2 separate regions of the Homo sapiens genome follow, and region 2 is linked to region 1. A link means that fine-mapping ties the variant in region 1 to the expression of a gene that starts in the linked region. Tissue or cell type: whole blood. Region 1 holds a variant in brackets; the other region holds the start of a gene. All regions are shown on one strand. Distances are between the middles of the regions.

Region 1 (8,145 bases):
AAAGGGCCGGGCACTTTGGCTCATGCCTGTAATCCCAGCACTTTGGGAGGCCGAGGCGGGCGGATCACGAGGTCAGGAGATCAAGACCATCCTGGCTAACACGGTGAAACCCCATCTCTACTAAAAATATGAAAAATTAGCCAGGCGTGGTGGCGGGCGCCTGTAGTCCCAGCTACTCGGGAGGCTGAGGCAGGAGAATGGCGTGAACCCGGGAGATGGGGCTTGCAGTGAGCCGAGATCGTGCCACTGCACTCCAGCCTGGGCGACAGAGCAAGACTCTGTCTCAAAAAAAAAAAAAAAAAGCACTTCTATGGTGAAACGTAACCCAAAAAAGAAAAGAAGTAGGCCAGGCGCATTGGCTCACGCCTGTAATCCCAGCACTTTGGGAGGCCAAGGCGGGCGGATCACCTGAGGGCAGGAGTTCGAGACCAGCCTGGCCAACATGGTGAAACCCCGTCTCTATTAAAAATACAAGATAATTAGCCGGGCATGGTGGCATGCGCCTGTAATCCCAGCTACTCGGGAGGCTGAGGCAGGAGAATCGCTTGAACCCAGGAGGCAGAGGTTGCAGTGACCAGAGATCATGCCATTGTACTCCATCCAGCCTGGGTGACAGAGCGAAACTCTGTCTCAAAAAAAAAAAAAAAAAAAAAAACCCACAAAATAAAGATGTACAGTGTAATGCTTATCAAAGCAGACAGTTCCATGGCATCACCCAGGTCAAGAATTTGAATATCATTGCCCTGAAAGCCCCTCTCATACCCTTACTATCACTTCCCAATGTGACCATGAACTTGATTCTTTTGCTAATCACTTTGGTCTTTATAGTTTGACCAGTTAAGCATGCATTCCTAAAAATGATGGGATGTGTTGTTTTGGCTGTTTTGAGGCTTTAAATAAAGGAAATTATTCAGTATAATATTTTTCCCTCCTCCACTCTTTTTTTTTTTTTTTTTTTTGGAGACAGAGTTTGGCTCTTGTTGCCCAGGCTGGAGTGCAATAGCGCCATCTCGGGTCACTGCAACCTTCGGATTCAAGCAATTCTCCTGCCTCAGCCTCCCGAGTAGCTGGGATTACAGGCATGTGCCACCACGCCCGGCTAATTTTTTGTATTTAGTAGAGACGGGATTTCACCATGTTGGTCAGGCTGGTCTTGAACTCCTAACCTCAGGTGACCCACCCACCTTGGCCTCCCAAAGTGCTGAGATTACAGGTGTGAGTCACCGCACTCAGCCTTCTCCTCCACTCTGAAGGGAAGTATTATTTTGTGTCTAGATTCTTTGCTCAACATTGGCAGATTAATTCAAGTGGCTGCATGTAACAATGTTGCTGCATAGTATTCCCCTGGATGAATACGTCACCATTGATTGTGTCCTTCAACTGTTGACATTTGGTTGGTTTCCCATTTGGGCTGTTATGGCTAATGCTGCTGTGAACAATTATGTATACGTCTTTCTTTTTCTTCTTTTTTTTTTTTTTTTTGAGACGGAGTCTCGCTCTGTCACCTAGGCTGGAGTGCAGTGGCGTGATCTCAGCTCACTGCAAGCTCCGCCTTCCGGGTTCACGCCAGTCTCCTGCCTCAGCCCCCTGAGTAGCTGGGACTACAGGTGCCCACCCCCATGCCCAGCTAATTTTTTGTATTTTTAGTAGAGACGGGGTTTCACTGTGTTAGCCAGGATGGTCTCTATCTCCTGACCTCAAGATCTGCCCGCCTCGGCCTGAGTGCTTGGATTATGGGCGTGAGCCACTGCGCCCAGCCGATGTATGTGTCTTTTGTTAAACATAGATGTTCATTTCAATAGGTATATAACTAGGTGGGGAATTGCTAGGTCATAGAGTATATGCACTGGGTTGAGTAGTGTCCCCATAAAAGTCATTGCAGACAGAATCAAGTTAAGGTGAGGTTATACTGCATAAGGGTGACCCCTAGTTCAATCAATGCATGGTGTTTTTAAAGGAGGAGAAAAAGAGACAGACACAGGGAGGAGAGCACTGCACGCAGCTGAAGGCAGAGATTGGAATGACACCTCTGCAAGCCAAGGAACACGGAGCATTGCTGGGAACCACCGGAAGAAGCCAGAAGACAGGCCTGGAGCTGGCTTTCCCTCACAGCCCCAGAAGGAACCCACCCTGGTGCCACCTTGATTTCGGACTTCTGGCCTTCAGAACTGGGAGAGAATAAATTTCTGTTGCTTTAAACTTCCCAGTCTCTGGCACTTTGTTACTGCAGCCACAGGAAACCCATACCATGCACACTCTGCCTTTTGTGTTTCCTCTTCTGTGAAATGCCTTTTTTTTTTTTTTTTTTGAGACGGAATTTCGCTCTTGTTGTCCAGGCTGGAGTGCAATGGCACAATCTTGGCTCACTGAAGCCTCTGCTTCCCGGGTTTCAGTGATTCTCCCGCCTCAGCCTCCTGAGTAGCTGGGATTACAGGCACCCACCAACATGCCCAGCTAATTTTTTTTTTTTTTTTTGTAGAGATGGGGGTTTCACCATGTTGTCCAGGCTGGTCTCAAACTCCTGGCCTCAGGTGATCCGCTCACCTCGGCCTCCCAAAGTGCTGGGATTACAGGTGTGAGCCACCACGCCCGGCCTTAACCACTTTTAACTGTACAGTTCAGTGGCATTAAGTACGTTCACACTGTTGTACAGTCATCACCACCATCCATCTTCAGAACTCTTTTCATCTTCCCAAACTAAAGCTCTGTCCCCATTATACAATTTCTCATTCCCCCATCCTCCCAGGCCCTGGAAACCAACCTTCTACTTTTTGACTCTGGATCTGAAGCCGGTAAGTACATCATATAAGTGGAATCATATAATATGCAGCCTTTTGTTTCCGGCTTATTGCAGTTAACATAATGTTTCTTGAAAATCCTTTGAGAGTATCCATTTGATAGCATGTATCAAAATATTCCTTTTTCTTTCTTTTATTTTTAATTTTTTTTTTTTTTTGAGACGGAGTCTCGCTCTGTTGCCCAGGCTGGAGTGCAGTGGCACGATCTCGGCTCACTGTAAGCTCCACCTCCTGGGTTTACGCCATTATCCTGCCTCAGCCTCCAGCTGGGACTACAGGCACCTGCCACCACGCCTGGCTAATTTTTTTTTTTTTTTTTTTTGTATTTTTAGTAGAGATGGGGTTTCACCATGTTAGCCAGGATGGTCTCGATCTCCTGACCTTGTGATCTGCCTGCCTCGGCCTCCCAAAGTGCTGGATTACAGGCATGAGCCACTGTGTCTGGTGTGTTTTTTTGTTTGTTTATTTGTTTGTTTGTTTTTTGAGATGAAGTCTCCCTCTATCGCCCAGGCTGGAGTCCAGTGGCACGATCTCAGCTCATTGCAACCTCTGCCTCTTGGGTTCAAGTGATTCTCCTGCCTCAGCCTCCTGAGTAGCTGGGATTACAGGCGTGCGCCATCACGCCAGCTAATTTTTTGGGGGTTTTTTGTTTGTTTTTGAGACGGAGTCTCACTCTGTCGACCAGGCTGGAGTGCAGTGGTGTGATCTTGGCTCACTGCAAGCTCCGCCTCCCGGGTTCACGCCATTCTCCTGCCTCAGCCTCCAGAGTAGCTGGGACTACAGGCACCCGCCACCACGCCTGGCTAATTTTTTTGTATTTTTAGTAGAGACGGGGTTTCACCATGTTAGCCAGGATGGTCTCGATCTCCTGACCTCGTGATCTGCCTGCCTCGGCCTCCCAAAGTGCTTGGATTACAGGTGTGAGCCACCAGGCCCAGCCTTTTTTTTTTCTTTTTTTGAGACGGAGTTTCGCTGCTGTTTCCCAGGCTGGAGTGCAATGGCTCGATCTCGGCTCACCGCAACCTCCGCCTCCCAGGTTCAAGCGATTCTTCTGCCTCAGCCTTCCCAAGTAGCTGGGATTACAGGCATGCGCTACCATGCCCTGCTAATTTTGTATTTTCAGTAGAGACGGGGTTTCTCCATGTTGGTCAGGCTGGTCTCAAACTCCTGACCTCAGGTGATCTGCCTGCCTCGGCCTCCTAAAGTGTTGGGATTACAGGTGTGAGCCACTGCGACTGGCCTAATTTTTGTATTTTAGTAGAGATGGGGTTTCACCATGTTGGCCAGGTTGGTCTCGAACTCCTGACTTCAAATGATCCGCCCACCTTGGCTTCCTAAAGTGTTGGGATTACAGGCGTGAGCCATGGTGCCCAGCTGCTTCTATCTATATTTAATTACAAGTGTTTGTTTTTTCCCAGGTAATTTTTTTCCCTTTTTGGTCATTTTTTTAAAAACCTTTTATTTTGAAATAATTAGGCACCAACACTGCTGAAAGACCTGGTTGTCTGAATCTTCTCTTGTTGCTGGCTCATCTTTGGTGGTTCTATATTTTCTTTCTTTCCACGTTTCTGTTATAGTATTTTTAATACTGTGTCTACGCCACCACCCTGGATTTG[C/G]CTTTGCTCCCACCCAGGACCCCCAGCTCCATCTGGGCAACCCCAATCCTACCTCCTGATCACAGCGTGCACTGCTCATGGCTGGCTACTTGCCGGGCTCTTCAGAGCTCCTCTCCCACCTATGATGCAGCCCAGGTAGGATCCAATTGATTCTCCACACTTGGGTCTCTCTGAAGTGTGGCCCCAATCTACCTGGCTAGCTTTGGGTTTTGAAGCAAGTTCATTAGCCTCACTCCACCTCCTTGGCAAAATGAGATTAATCCCTATTTCTGCAATGTTGTTACAGGGATTACAGACAATAACTGAAGCCTTAAGTGACTGGTGCAGAAGAGGTTGATGCCCATCTGCTCAAGTGTGCTCCATGTCCCCAGGGCACTAAGGGTTCAGCCTTTCTGTCCAGCAGTCACTTCCCATTTTCACCCCTACAGAGAGGCCAGAGACATTTTACAACAAGCCAACACATATGCTTTATGGTTCTGTTTCAAAAACATGAAAACCCAGGCCCTAGGATTCAAGTGATGTTGAGAGGCAGAAAGGATGGAGAAGTTGTTGGCGCCAGCATGGGGGCAAGCAGCCAGACCTCAGGCCCTCACTCTAGGCTCCACGTGGCTGGGCTTGACTTCTGGCCAAGGGCTGCTTTTCCCGCCTGCGGCCCACCTGAGGCCAGACCTTGCCTGAGGAAAGGGCCTGTGGTGGGGGGGAAGCTCAGGCAGAAGGAAGACGTGGCCAACGGCCATCCCTGAGGAGGTAGTGAGCAGCTCCTGGTTCGGCAAGGGCGGTGGGTAGGAGCCAGGCCGAGGAGTCTTAGGGTCCCCTCTCCACAGCTCTGGTGGGCCCCCTGCTCCCCTAGCCAACTGGTTGCTCACCTGCCTTCTATGCTCCCTCCTGAAGCCAGCCCCTGGGAGAGAACATCTGAAGGCAAGAAGGAAAGAGAGCCCTGCCTAAGCTTCTTCCTCCCTGCTTGGCCAAGTGGGAGAAGCAGCTGAGGTCCTTTGTGTAACTGAGGAAGCACGGAGGAGCTGGAATGCCTACCAGCTCGGAGAGGGCACTTGAGAGGGTCTATGAACAAATCTGTCTAAAAGCCACGTTTGAGCTAAAAGCATCAGTCCATCCCTCAGCCCCAGCTCTGTGCGGGCCAAGAATCCAGAAGGCAGCAAGCAAGGCCTATCTCCCAGGCTGGAGGTGGTTGTGGAGCTGCTCTGCCTGAGTCTTCAGATGCTGGAATTCCTCTTGAATGAAGTCCGTCAGGGCTTTCCGCATCTCCACCTGAGGGAAAGGACCAGGGATGGCCTGCACCCCTCGGGAAGCTTGGCCAAGGTGCCCTGGGAGGGTGCCCTGGGAGGGTGACGGGATGGAGAGGGTGGAGGCACCCTGCTGGAAGCCAGCAGCAGGGGGTCCGGGGACAGCTACGGGGGACCCAGGAGGAAACTCACAGCCGACTTGTTCTCCGCCCGGAGCCGCTCGAGTACAGGCAGGGCACTGAAGGGCTTCCCGATCAGCACAGTGATTTTCTGTGGGGTGGCCGCCAAGAGTGATGAGGAGCAGTAGGAGTGCCCACAGCCCCAGCCCAAGCAACCCGGGAGCCAGAAGCTAAGCCCCGGCCCTGCTGTGCCACACACTCCCCAGGGGCCACTCTTCCTCTAAAACAAGGTCCTGGTCCTGGGTCCTGTGCTGTAGATGACCTGTCCTGTCCTGACCCCACAGCCCACCTCTGCCCCAGCCTGACTTCCTCTGCTCTCATTTTAATGTCTCGGTGCCAGGAAGTCCCTGTCTATGTTCCACTCTGTCCCCTGCTGTAGCCTCATGCTCAGCTCCTCCTGCAGCTGGCCTCCATAGTGCTGAGTGGGAGACACGGAGCAGACAGCAGACAGGCAGACAGCCGAAGGTCAGCAGTCCCCACCCACCTGTCCAAAGCGGGGGAAGTAGGGCGGACTGTTAGGAAGGACGTCATTCATTCCTGCAGCACAGTGGACAGAAGGCCAGACGTGGGGTGGAGCAGGGCAGCCTGGGACCAGAGGGAGTCCCAGGCCCCCCACCCCAGATGCCATCTCTCTGTCCCCGTCCCCAGGCTCACCGACATGCCACAGGGGCAGGATGATGGGGTTGAGATGACACTCAGCAATCAGGCGCCCGATTCCTGCCCAGGGGGGAGGTAGAAATGTTAGCATAAGCTGGGCCCTGAGCCAAGCTTCTGTGCCAGCCTCTGGCCACTGCCACCCCCGACATCCTCCAGTTCAATTCAGCTCCCTTGGGCAAGCCCCTGCGAGAGGCAGGCCTAGTCTCAGCACCTGTCCCCTTCCTGGCGCTACAAACACGCCCATCTACCCCCATACAAGCCAGCCCGAGGGGGCGGGAGCCAGGGGCCCACAGGGCCATCTCTGGGCCGGGAGGATGGCTGTGGCCAGAGACCAGCAGCCCTTACCCCACTTGAAACGCAGGAATTCGGAACTCATGTTCACTTTCCCTGGTGAGAGAGCACAGAGGCGAGGCTTGGGAGCCCATCCCGCTCATACTGGGGGGGCTCGACCCAGTCAGCCCTGCTGACCTTCTGGGAAGATATGCACCCAGTCCCCATGGTTGAGCTTCTCCAAAATGAAGTCCATCCCCTTCTGGTAGACGCCATCTCCTGCAAGGAAAAGGCCTCTCCCTATCAGTAACCATTCTCGGGGGCGTGGGGTGACAGGTTAGCTTACCCTCAACACTCTCCAAACCTCAATGAAACAGGCCCTTCTCCCTGGGGCCCATGTGTTGGGGACTATCCCCCTCAGTCCCTGCTTGCTGGGAAAGCCCCAGCAGATTAGGGACTTCCCATCCCCCACTGCGCCATCCACAGACGCCCTCCAATGACCGTCTCCAGGGCCTGCATGGCACTTGGGCACGCTGTGGGGCTTCCTTCCTAATATCTTCTAAACCCCTATGTGCCAGGCAGCATCAGCTCAAGTCATCTCCTACCGAGATTCTGACCTGGCAATTCCTCCATCTACCTATGACCCCCATCTTCAGTGGCTCACCAGCTGGGCCGCTTCAGCCACATACTCCTGCACACTCTCAAAGATCCCCAGGTCAGCGCACCACCTGCCCTCCCTCCCCAGCCAGGCCCTGGCTGCCAGCCGACCGCTCTCGGAGCCTCATGCGTTCCTTTCTCTTTGAAGGTGCCACTCCTGGGCTGATCCTACTATGTGCCAGCTGCTAGAGAAACCAAGTGCATTTGTGATTTCCAACCTCGCTTAGGCCCCAGATTCTGGGCAACAACCCTTTGCTGGGATCTCAGCCGCTTGTCACAGCCACTCCTCACAGGGCACCTGCCTGAGGCCTCAGCCTCCACCATTCCTCCCCCCTGCTGACCCCTTCTTCTCAGGGCACCCCGGGAAACTAGACCCTCCCTTATAGGGAGGTCTCTTGGGAAAGGGAGAACATTCATTTGAACACACATCAAGAGCTTGGGAAAAACTCAAACTTGCTAGACTGAAAAACAGTGGAGTCAAACTGCTCCTGGTCTAGCAACTTTCCACATTGGAGATAACCCTGAGACCATGGCACTGGACCCAAGAGAAGGAAATGCAAACCTCCTTCCTTCTGAAGCCAATGTTGGCTGCTGCGTGCTGGCTGGAAGCCTGGGGATGCTTGGAGACAGTAAGTACACAGTAAGGATCTCATCAACCTTGGTGATGGAAAAGTAATCACATGGCAGACAAAAGAGGAAAGAGGTGGAGAGGTTGAAGGAATGGGGT
Region 2 (8,174 bases), 43 kb after region 1:
TTCGGTTCTTCCTGTCAGTGTACTTGGTTTTTATCAGCTGCTGAAACAGGAGGCTCTGTCACTGCGTCCTTCTAGGGTCCTGGCAGTAGCAACCTGTTTGTTCTGCCCCCCATGTACAGGCTCATTAATGGGACCATTGAATCCCTAAGGTGGACCTGTGAGGAGGTGGCATCCCCTGCCCATGCCTACCACCCGCCATGGACCATCCAGGTCTCGCCTGCTGCAGGGCCAGCCATCAGTCTTTGCATTGGGCTTGGGATGGTGAGGGGCAGAGGGCAGGGGCTTGGGGAATCCACACAGCAAGTGGCTGGGCACTGCGGGGTGAGCCAGGTAAGAGGAGCTCATAGCAATGAAACAAGAAAGGCTGAAACTGTGAGTGGTAAGAAAATTAGAAGTGATTCACTCTTTTCTGCATGTTTGCAACACACAAGGACCATGTACTATTTTAGGACCAAAAATATACGTGAGGAGAGACGAGGATGCAGCCAAGATAAATGGTCAGGAGTAGCCAGGGAGGGTCCCAGCCCCAGCCCTGCCTCCACAAATGCATGTGCAGGCACTACATGGGAGCTGTGCCAAGTGTGGGAGGCTGGGCTGTCCCACTACCTGCAGCAAGGAGCCAAAGGCTTGGGTGACTAATGCCAGCACCCCACCCCTTGCTGGGCCTCTGCTTCCCACCTGCCCGTGTGCAGTGGACGGCAGCCCCTCTGTGCTCTCCCGCCCTCTGCCAGCAGCATAGAGCCAGGCATGCACAGCAACACGTGGCATTGTCTTGGGTTTTAGTACCCACTTTCCACTTAAAAACATATATGTAGACTGGGCACGGTGGCTCACACATGTAATCCCAGCACTTTGGGAGGCCAAAGTGGGTGGATCATGAGGTCAGGAGATGGAGACCATCCTGGCCAACATGGTGAAACCCTGTCTCTACTAAAATACAAAGCAATAGCCGTGCACGGTGGTGCACACCTGTAGTCCCAGCTACTCGGGAGGCTGAGGGAGGGGAATCGCTTGGACTCAGGAGGCAGAGGTTGCGATGAGCTGAGATTGCGCCACTGCACTCCAGCCTGGCGACAGTGAGACTGCATCTCAAAAAAATAAATAAATATATAATATATATAGTAAACTTCGGCTGGGCACGGTGGCTCATACTTGTAATCCCAGCACTTTGGGAGGCCAAGATGGGTGGATCACCTGAGGTCAGGAGTTTGAGACCAGCCTGACCAATACGGTGAAACCTCGTCTCTACTAAAAATACAAAAATTAGCCAGGTATGGTGGTGCGCGACTGTAGTCCCAGCTACTAGGGAGGCTGAGACAGAAGAATTGCTTGAACCCGGAGGCAGAGGTTGCAGTGAGCCAAGATTGTGCCATTGCACTCCAGCCTGGGTGACAGAGCATGACTCCGTCTCAAAAAAAAAAATTATATATATATATACTTTGAAGATTATGAAATACATACCCAGGGCAGAAAACCTGGGAGCTAAGTGAGAATATAGGCAGGTGAATTCAATCACCCAGGGATGATGGGGCATTTCAGCCTTTGGAGCTTTTCTCCCATGTTAAACAAGCAGCAGTTCCAGGAGCTGAGAATGATGTGCCAGAGACGCCTCATTTTCTTTCCATCCCCATGCCATTGGACACCGAGGTGGACTTCAGCTTTTTCCAGTTAAAACACCCGCAGACTGCTGGTAGCGTGCATGCAGCTTTGCCTGAATTTCCAAGTGGGTTCTCTGTATATACCTTGTTGTACCACGATTATATGTATAAGCAGTTACACGTGCTTTGGGGAATGAGTTAGGGAATAAAACTCCCAAACAAAACACAAACATCTCTGGGTAACATTTGATTCCTATCCCCAGACTAAAGCAAAAATGCGGACCCAACAAAGCCGGATTGCAATCCTGGAGCCCCAAGACGCAGAGGCCCTTGCCATGGGAGCCCAACCCTCTCCTCCAGGAAGAGCCAACGCATTACAAATAAACGGGGCTTTTATTGTGTGTCCACAAAAACAAAGTCAGGGTGGCCTTTGGTTAATCCCCTCCCCCCAACAAGATGACAAAAGGAGGAATGCATGTCAACAAAATGACAAAGAGGACCATGGAGGGCCTGAGTCTGCTGCCTCCCTGGTGGGACAAGGCAGGGGGAGCAAGCACTACTCTGGGCTAGGCCCAGCGCCCCCCAAGCAAAAACACATAAAGCCCCTGCCCCTGCCCCCACCCCCACCCCCACTGCTAAGGCAGTCAGCCAGGACTTCCCCAAAGACCTAGCTCTGAAGCCCAGACCCTCATGGCTCCCTCTAGAAGGGGTTGCCTTCTTCAGCCTGCATGAAGTGGTAAATGAAGAAGAGGACGATCACAAAGACCAGGAAAAGCAGCAGCTGGCCCCAGAGCGGGACCTGGCGATCCTGGCCCAGCCCAGCCCCAGGAGCACGGTTTTCAGGCCGGATGGCACGGCGGGTGAGCCATGAAGAGGAAGATGATGAGGAGGACATAAAAGAGGTGGAGGAGGAAGTAGGATAATAGGACAGGTCCAGGGAGCTCCTGGAGGCTGAAACAGGGCGGTAGTGCGTGATGCTCTGGTAGGCACTGTCCCGGCCGTACATGGGGCGTTCCCTGAGGCAAAAGAGGGGAGCAAGTGGGCCAGGAGCCTGGACCCAGAACCAGCCCGTCCCTGGGCTCCCCCACTACGCACCTATCCTTGCACTCCTCTTCAGAAGAAGACAAAAGATCGTCATCATGCACCTGCAGAAGAGAGTCAGGGCGAGGGGACTGGCTGGCAGGGCCACCATGGCCCTGTCATGTCCCTCAGTCCAAACTTCCCCAGCCAGTCCCCTCTGACCTTTGGTTAGAGGCCAGGAACCCACACCCTCCTGAATGGCTCTGGGTGTTCAGCCCTTTATCCATGGGGCCTTGCCACTTGTGCTCATGCCCCAGCATCCCCTTTTGCCCCCAGGACTCTCAGGAAGAGTCTGAGCCTAGATCCCAGACCAGGGTGCTCTAGTCACACAGAGTCTCCCCGGAGGCCCAAGAGCCACCATTTGTACCCAGTGCCCCCCTGGATTTATCCAAACACAGCCGCGATCCCCTAGGTTGTACCCAAGTACAGGACGCCTGCCAGCCAGCTCACCTGGTGATGGAAAGCGTCAGCATCTGGGAATGAAGTCACTGACTGGCGGACAGCCCTGGACGGGCCGGCAGACTCGGGCTCCCCATAAGTCCTGGTGGTGAAGTAGCTCTCTTCATAGTAGTCGTCATTGTAGCCTTGGGAAGGGGGGCAGCGGTAGCAGAGGGGGCATCGGTGTGCCCCGCCTGGCCTGATGGCCCTAATCTGAATCCCATTTCGGGACCTGTAACAGTTTCTCCCTCCTAAGGCTGCTGGAGTGGTTGGGACTGAGGTCTCAGGTCCTCCCTGTGAGCGGGGTCCCTGACGAAGTCGGGTGAAGGTGCCAGCGTGCCCACCCAACCCCTGCCTTACCCTTGCTCTGGTAGAGTAAAGCGTCCTCTTTCTTGGGAAGATCATACATATCTGCATCCCCTCTAGTCGAATTCAAGTCTGGATTGAAAGGAGGAGACAGAACTGTTTGCCCCCCCAGACTTCCCTCCCCTTTCTCCAGTGCCGCTCTCGACCGGCCCCCCTGCCACACCCTCGCGACCCCATCCTCCCCGCGTCCCAGGCTGTCCCCACAGGCGAGGCTCTCACCAGAGAAGCTATAAGAGGAGGCGGCGGACGAGCTGGGGGGCGAGAGCCGCCGCCTCTGGGTCTCGTACTCGAAGATCTTCTTCTCGTAAAGCCTACGAGTTGATCCTGGCCGGACACGGGGCGGTCAGGGCCGCGGGCCGGGGAAGGCGCGCGGGGAGGGCAGCGGGGAGGTCGCGAGGCGGAGCACGAGGAGGGGGCCCGGAAGGGGTCCCGCCCGCCGCCGCGTACCTACTACAGGCCCGTGCGGGATGTTGTACCGGCGCAGCAAGGTGGTCAGCTCGGTATCCGAAAGATCTGCGTAGTTGTCCATGGCGGGTGCGGGCTCAGGCGGAGGCCTGGCGGCGGCCCGGGCCTACCAAAACCGGCCGAGCAACGGCTGCCGAGGAGCACGGCGGGGGCGGCACGAGCGCATCGGGAGCGGCCGCGCTCGCGTCACAGCCGAATCGTTGTCGCGTCACAGCCGAATCGTTGTCGCGTCACGGCCGCTGGCTCCGCAGGCTGCGCGCGCTGCGCGGGGCGGGACCTAACCGCGGGAGCAGCCGGCACAGACCGGCCGTGCCCTGAGAGCTGGGAGGCTGGGGCCGCGAGCCCAAACGTCATCAACGCGAGGATTGGCTAGCGGCGGAGAGGGCGGGGCCCGCCCGGGAGTCAGGGCGGTGGGAACCGGTCTCGCGATGGGAGCGGGCGGGGCCGCAAGCCCATATGTCACAAGCACGGGGATTGGCTAGTGATGGAGGGGGCGGGGCCCGCGCGGGCGCGGAGCAAAAGGTCTCGCGGTGGGAGCGAGCGGGGCCGCGAGCCCATACGTCACAAAACGGGGATTGGCTAGCGATGGAGGGGGAGGGGCCCGCGCGGGCGCGGAGCAGAAGGTCTCGCGGTGGGAGCGAGCGGTACTGCGAGCCCGGACGCCACTAATGCATGGATTGGCTAGCGGCGTAGGGGGCGGGGCCCGCGCGGGAGTCAGGGCAATGCAAACCGGTATCGCTGTGGGAGCAGGCGGGGCTGCGGGCCCAAAAGTCACAAACGCACAGATTGGCTAGCGGCAGGGGGCGGGGCCCGCGCGGGAGTCAGGGCGATGCGGCTGGGAGCCCAGACGTCACCCTGTGGCGTGCGGCGGGGTGAGAGGGGCGGGGCCTGCGCGCGAGGGACCCGGGACGTGCGAGCGGGCGAAGTCGGCGCTTGGGGTGGCTCTGGTCCCTAAGTCGCTTGGGCTTCGCCCGATCCCTGCACATCCCTACTCCCCGCCGTCGTCCCCCTTCCCAGGGCCCCAGAGCCTAGGGTTCCCCGGCCGCATCCCGGTCGGCCGCCCCAGCAGCGGCGGGAAGGGCCCGGACCCTAAGAGAGCGCGGGCCCCGGGCCAGGCGCTGCCGAGGGCGCTTTGTGTGCGCATCGCCCGGGAAGCGGCTGCAGGGCAAGGCCCGCGCCTACGCGATCCCCGCAGACCCCCTGCCATGGGCCCGCCTTCCCAGTCTGCGGGGCTCTCGCCCGCGCACATGTGCCTGCTGCTTACCACCGCCTACCCCTCTGCTTCCCTTCCTCCTCCCTCGCTCCACCCGGGAGGAAATGGGGCACTGGGCCAGGAGGCCGCTGGCACTCCAGAAGCAAGCAGTCTTCGAAGGGGCCCGGGCATGCCGACGGGCACGCCAGTGGGCGCGGGCAGAGGGCGCCGTGCGATGCGTGCAGAGACGACGTGTGCCCGCCTAACCCTTCATGCCGTTCATTCACCCGGGGCACTGGGGGGAGCTGAAGTGGGGCGTCCTCTCCTGTCGGAATGGTCCCTGAGCGCAGCGTGGCTAGGCAGGGGGCAGACGTGGGTGGCGAGCTATGGATTCCCATTCCCAGGGCCTTGATCAGATATTGGCTGTCTCATGGAGAAGAGAAAGGAGGTGACATTCATCATTCATATTCTTTTTTTTTTTTTTTTTTTTTTGAGACAGTCTCGCTCTGTCACCCAGGCTGGAGTGCAGTGGTGCAATCTTGGCTCTCTGTAGCCTCCACCTCCCGGGTTCAAGTGATTCTCCTGTCTCAGCCTCCCGAGTAGCTGGGAGTACAGTCACATGCCACCATGCCTGGCTTTGTATTTTTAGTATTTAGTATTTGTATTTTTAGTAGAAACAGGATTTCACCATGTTGGCCAGGCTGGTCTCGAACTCCTGACCTCAAGTGATCAGTCCGGCTCGGCCTCCCAAAGTGCTGGGATTACAGGCATAAGCCACCGCGCCTGGCTGTGACATTCACATTCTAAACAAAGCCAGCTGAGGGTGTATGGAATCAACTAGTGTGCCCCTCACTGGGTAGGCCCCAAACTGGGAGCATGAAGAGGTGACATGCCATCTGTAGTTTCACAGTTGAGGGCTGGTGACAAGGGAAGAAGAGGGGAGGGCTCTGGTCATGTCCAGAATGGCTGGCCTGGCTGGTGAGGGTCACAGACCAGTCATCCATGGAGGTTTGCCCATGGGGTGGGAAGAGGTAGACACCTGGGGGAGTAATGAGGAGATGGGGCCCTGTTTTGACTACACGCAAAGATCCTAACAAAGAGGAATCACTGTTGGCAAGGCCCCACTGTGTCCCCAGCAATATGGAAGGAAGTGTGGGTCCATGAAGACAGTGCCTGGCAGTGTGCAGCAGGAGAGCCTTGGGTAGGGCAGGGGTTTGCACCTCATCTTTCAGAGCTGAGGGGACAGATGGCAGTTTGGACTCTGGGCTGCTCAGAGGCTGCCTTGTGGATTTTTTAGTTTTGACAAAATCAGATTCCCCAGCACCTCTGCAAGCCTTCTGCAATCCTGGCCCCTCTCCCAGAGGCCTCTGTGTACTAAGTGCTGCTCCATCCTCCCCCATGCCACCCCTCCCCATACGGATCCAAGCTGTTTCCTTATGAGGTCAAGGAATTCTAGATTTGCCTTCTCCCTAAGGAGCACCCCCCACCCGTTCTGTACCTGCCTCGACACTCTGCCTTTTATGTCCCACCCCTTTGCCCCACAATCAGGTCCCACCACAGATGGCACCAGGAAGCTGAACTGTGATGGTCCCCCTGCACCCACCCTGTGGGTACCTGGAGCCTAAGTCCAGCCCCATTGCAGTGCAGCTCCACTCCAGACCACTGGAAGCCAGGCAGGCTCCTGAGCAGCAGAGCCTCCATCTTATACAGGGAGAGTCAGGACCCTGCGATCAGGGGAGACTTGTCCAAGAGCCCTGAGTACAGCAATTAATTCATGGAACATTCCCCCACCAGTACCTGGTCCCTGGGGGTGATGACCTGGACAGCCTCAGAGAGTTTCCCGTCAAGGGTAGGGTGGGATTTGCAGTCATCAGAGGGTCTGGGAAGGGCGTGTGCAGGAAAATCTGAGGGCCTCAGGGGGTTCTTCCTGGGAAGTGCAGGCAGAGGAGACATCGGGATGCAACCAATTCTAAGTCAAGAATAAGAAAACTGAGTTGCTCCTTAAGGATGGAATGGCTTGCAAGCAGTATATGCTGTATAACTTACAATCCCAACATGATTGAGTTACGAGGAAAAAATATCAACATGGAAACATTCCTCAGTGTCTATGACAAGTAGATGATTGTTCACTGAGCTGTTAACGTTATTTTTTTATTTGTATTTTTATTTTTATATTTATTATTTTTTTCCAAGACACAGTCTAGCTCTATCACCCAGGCTGGAGTGCAGTGGCGCAATCTCAGCTCACTGCAACCTCCGCCTCCCAGGTTCACGCGATTCTCCTGTCTCAGCCTCCCGAGTAGCTGGGATTACAGGCGCCTGCCACCACGCCCAGCTAATTTTTGTATTTTTAGTAGAGACCGGGTTTCACTGTGTTGACCAGGCTGGTCTCAAACTCCTGACCTCGTGATCCACCTGCCTCAGCCTCCCAAAGTGCTGGGATCCACCACGCCCGGCCTTTTTTTTTTTTTTTTTTTTTTTTTTTGAGACGGAGTCTCTATCACCCAGGTTGGAGTGCAGTGACGTGATCTCGGCTCACTGCAACCTCTGCCGCCCGGGTTCACGCGATTTTCCCGCCTCAGCCTCCCGAGTAGCTGGGATTACAGGCGCCTGCCACTGCGCCCGGCTAGTTTTTATATTTTTAGTAGAGACGGGGTTTCACCATCTTGGCCAGGCTGTTCTTGAACTCCTGACCTCGTGATCCACCCACTTCGGCCTCCCAAAGTGCTGGGATTACAGGCATGAACCACCGCACCTGGCCTTTTTTTTTATGTTTAGTGACAGGGTTTCACTGTGTGACCCAGGCTGGAGTGTAGTGGTGAAATTATAGCTCACTGCAGCCTCAAACTCCCGGGCTTAAACGATCCTCCCATCTGTCTCCTGAGCAGCTGAGACTACCGGTGCACGTCACCACGCCCAGCTAATTTTTATATTTTTGGTAGAGATAGTGTCTTGCTGTGTTGCCCAGGTTGGTCTCAAACTCCCGGGCTCAATTAATCCACCTGCCTCAGCTTCCCACAGTGCTAGGATTATAG

Evidence for each region. PIP is the estimated chance that this variant, and not a neighbour inherited with it, causes the effect.
Region 2: it holds the start of EMD, and the variant in region 1 is fine-mapped to the expression of EMD in whole blood (TOPMed, PIP above 0.99).

The regions. Positions count from the first base shown.
Region 1 is chrX:154,418,438-154,426,582 of GRCh38, reverse strand. TAFAZZIN (tafazzin, phospholipid-lysophospholipid transacylase) reads right to left here. Exons shown (of 11, transcript NM_000116.5): 6 at 6,960-7,040; 7 at 6,837-6,878; 8 at 6,489-6,551; 9 at 6,319-6,371; 10 at 5,848-5,925; 11 at 4,857-5,680. The coding sequence ends at 5,579. ATP6AP1-DT (ATP6AP1 divergent transcript) reads left to right here. Exons shown (of 2, transcript NR_103768.1): 2 at 1,958-2,203. Among named protein-coding and RNA genes, the nearest start is that of ATP6AP1-DT, 6.0 kb to the left of the region's middle. RefSeq lists enhancers at 5,994-6,493, 6,494-6,995. The variant C/G (reference allele first, on the strand shown) is at 4,415.
Region 2 is chrX:154,375,322-154,383,495 of GRCh38, reverse strand. EMD (emerin) reads right to left here and starts at 4,201. Exons shown (of 6, transcript NM_000117.3): 1 at 3,930-4,201; 2 at 3,702-3,806; 3 at 3,477-3,554; 4 at 3,129-3,262; 5 at 2,694-2,743; 6 at 1,973-2,614. The coding sequence starts at 4,011. The coding sequence ends at 2,299. RefSeq lists an enhancer at 3,244-3,823 and silencers at 4,231-4,530, 4,541-4,960, 4,981-5,110.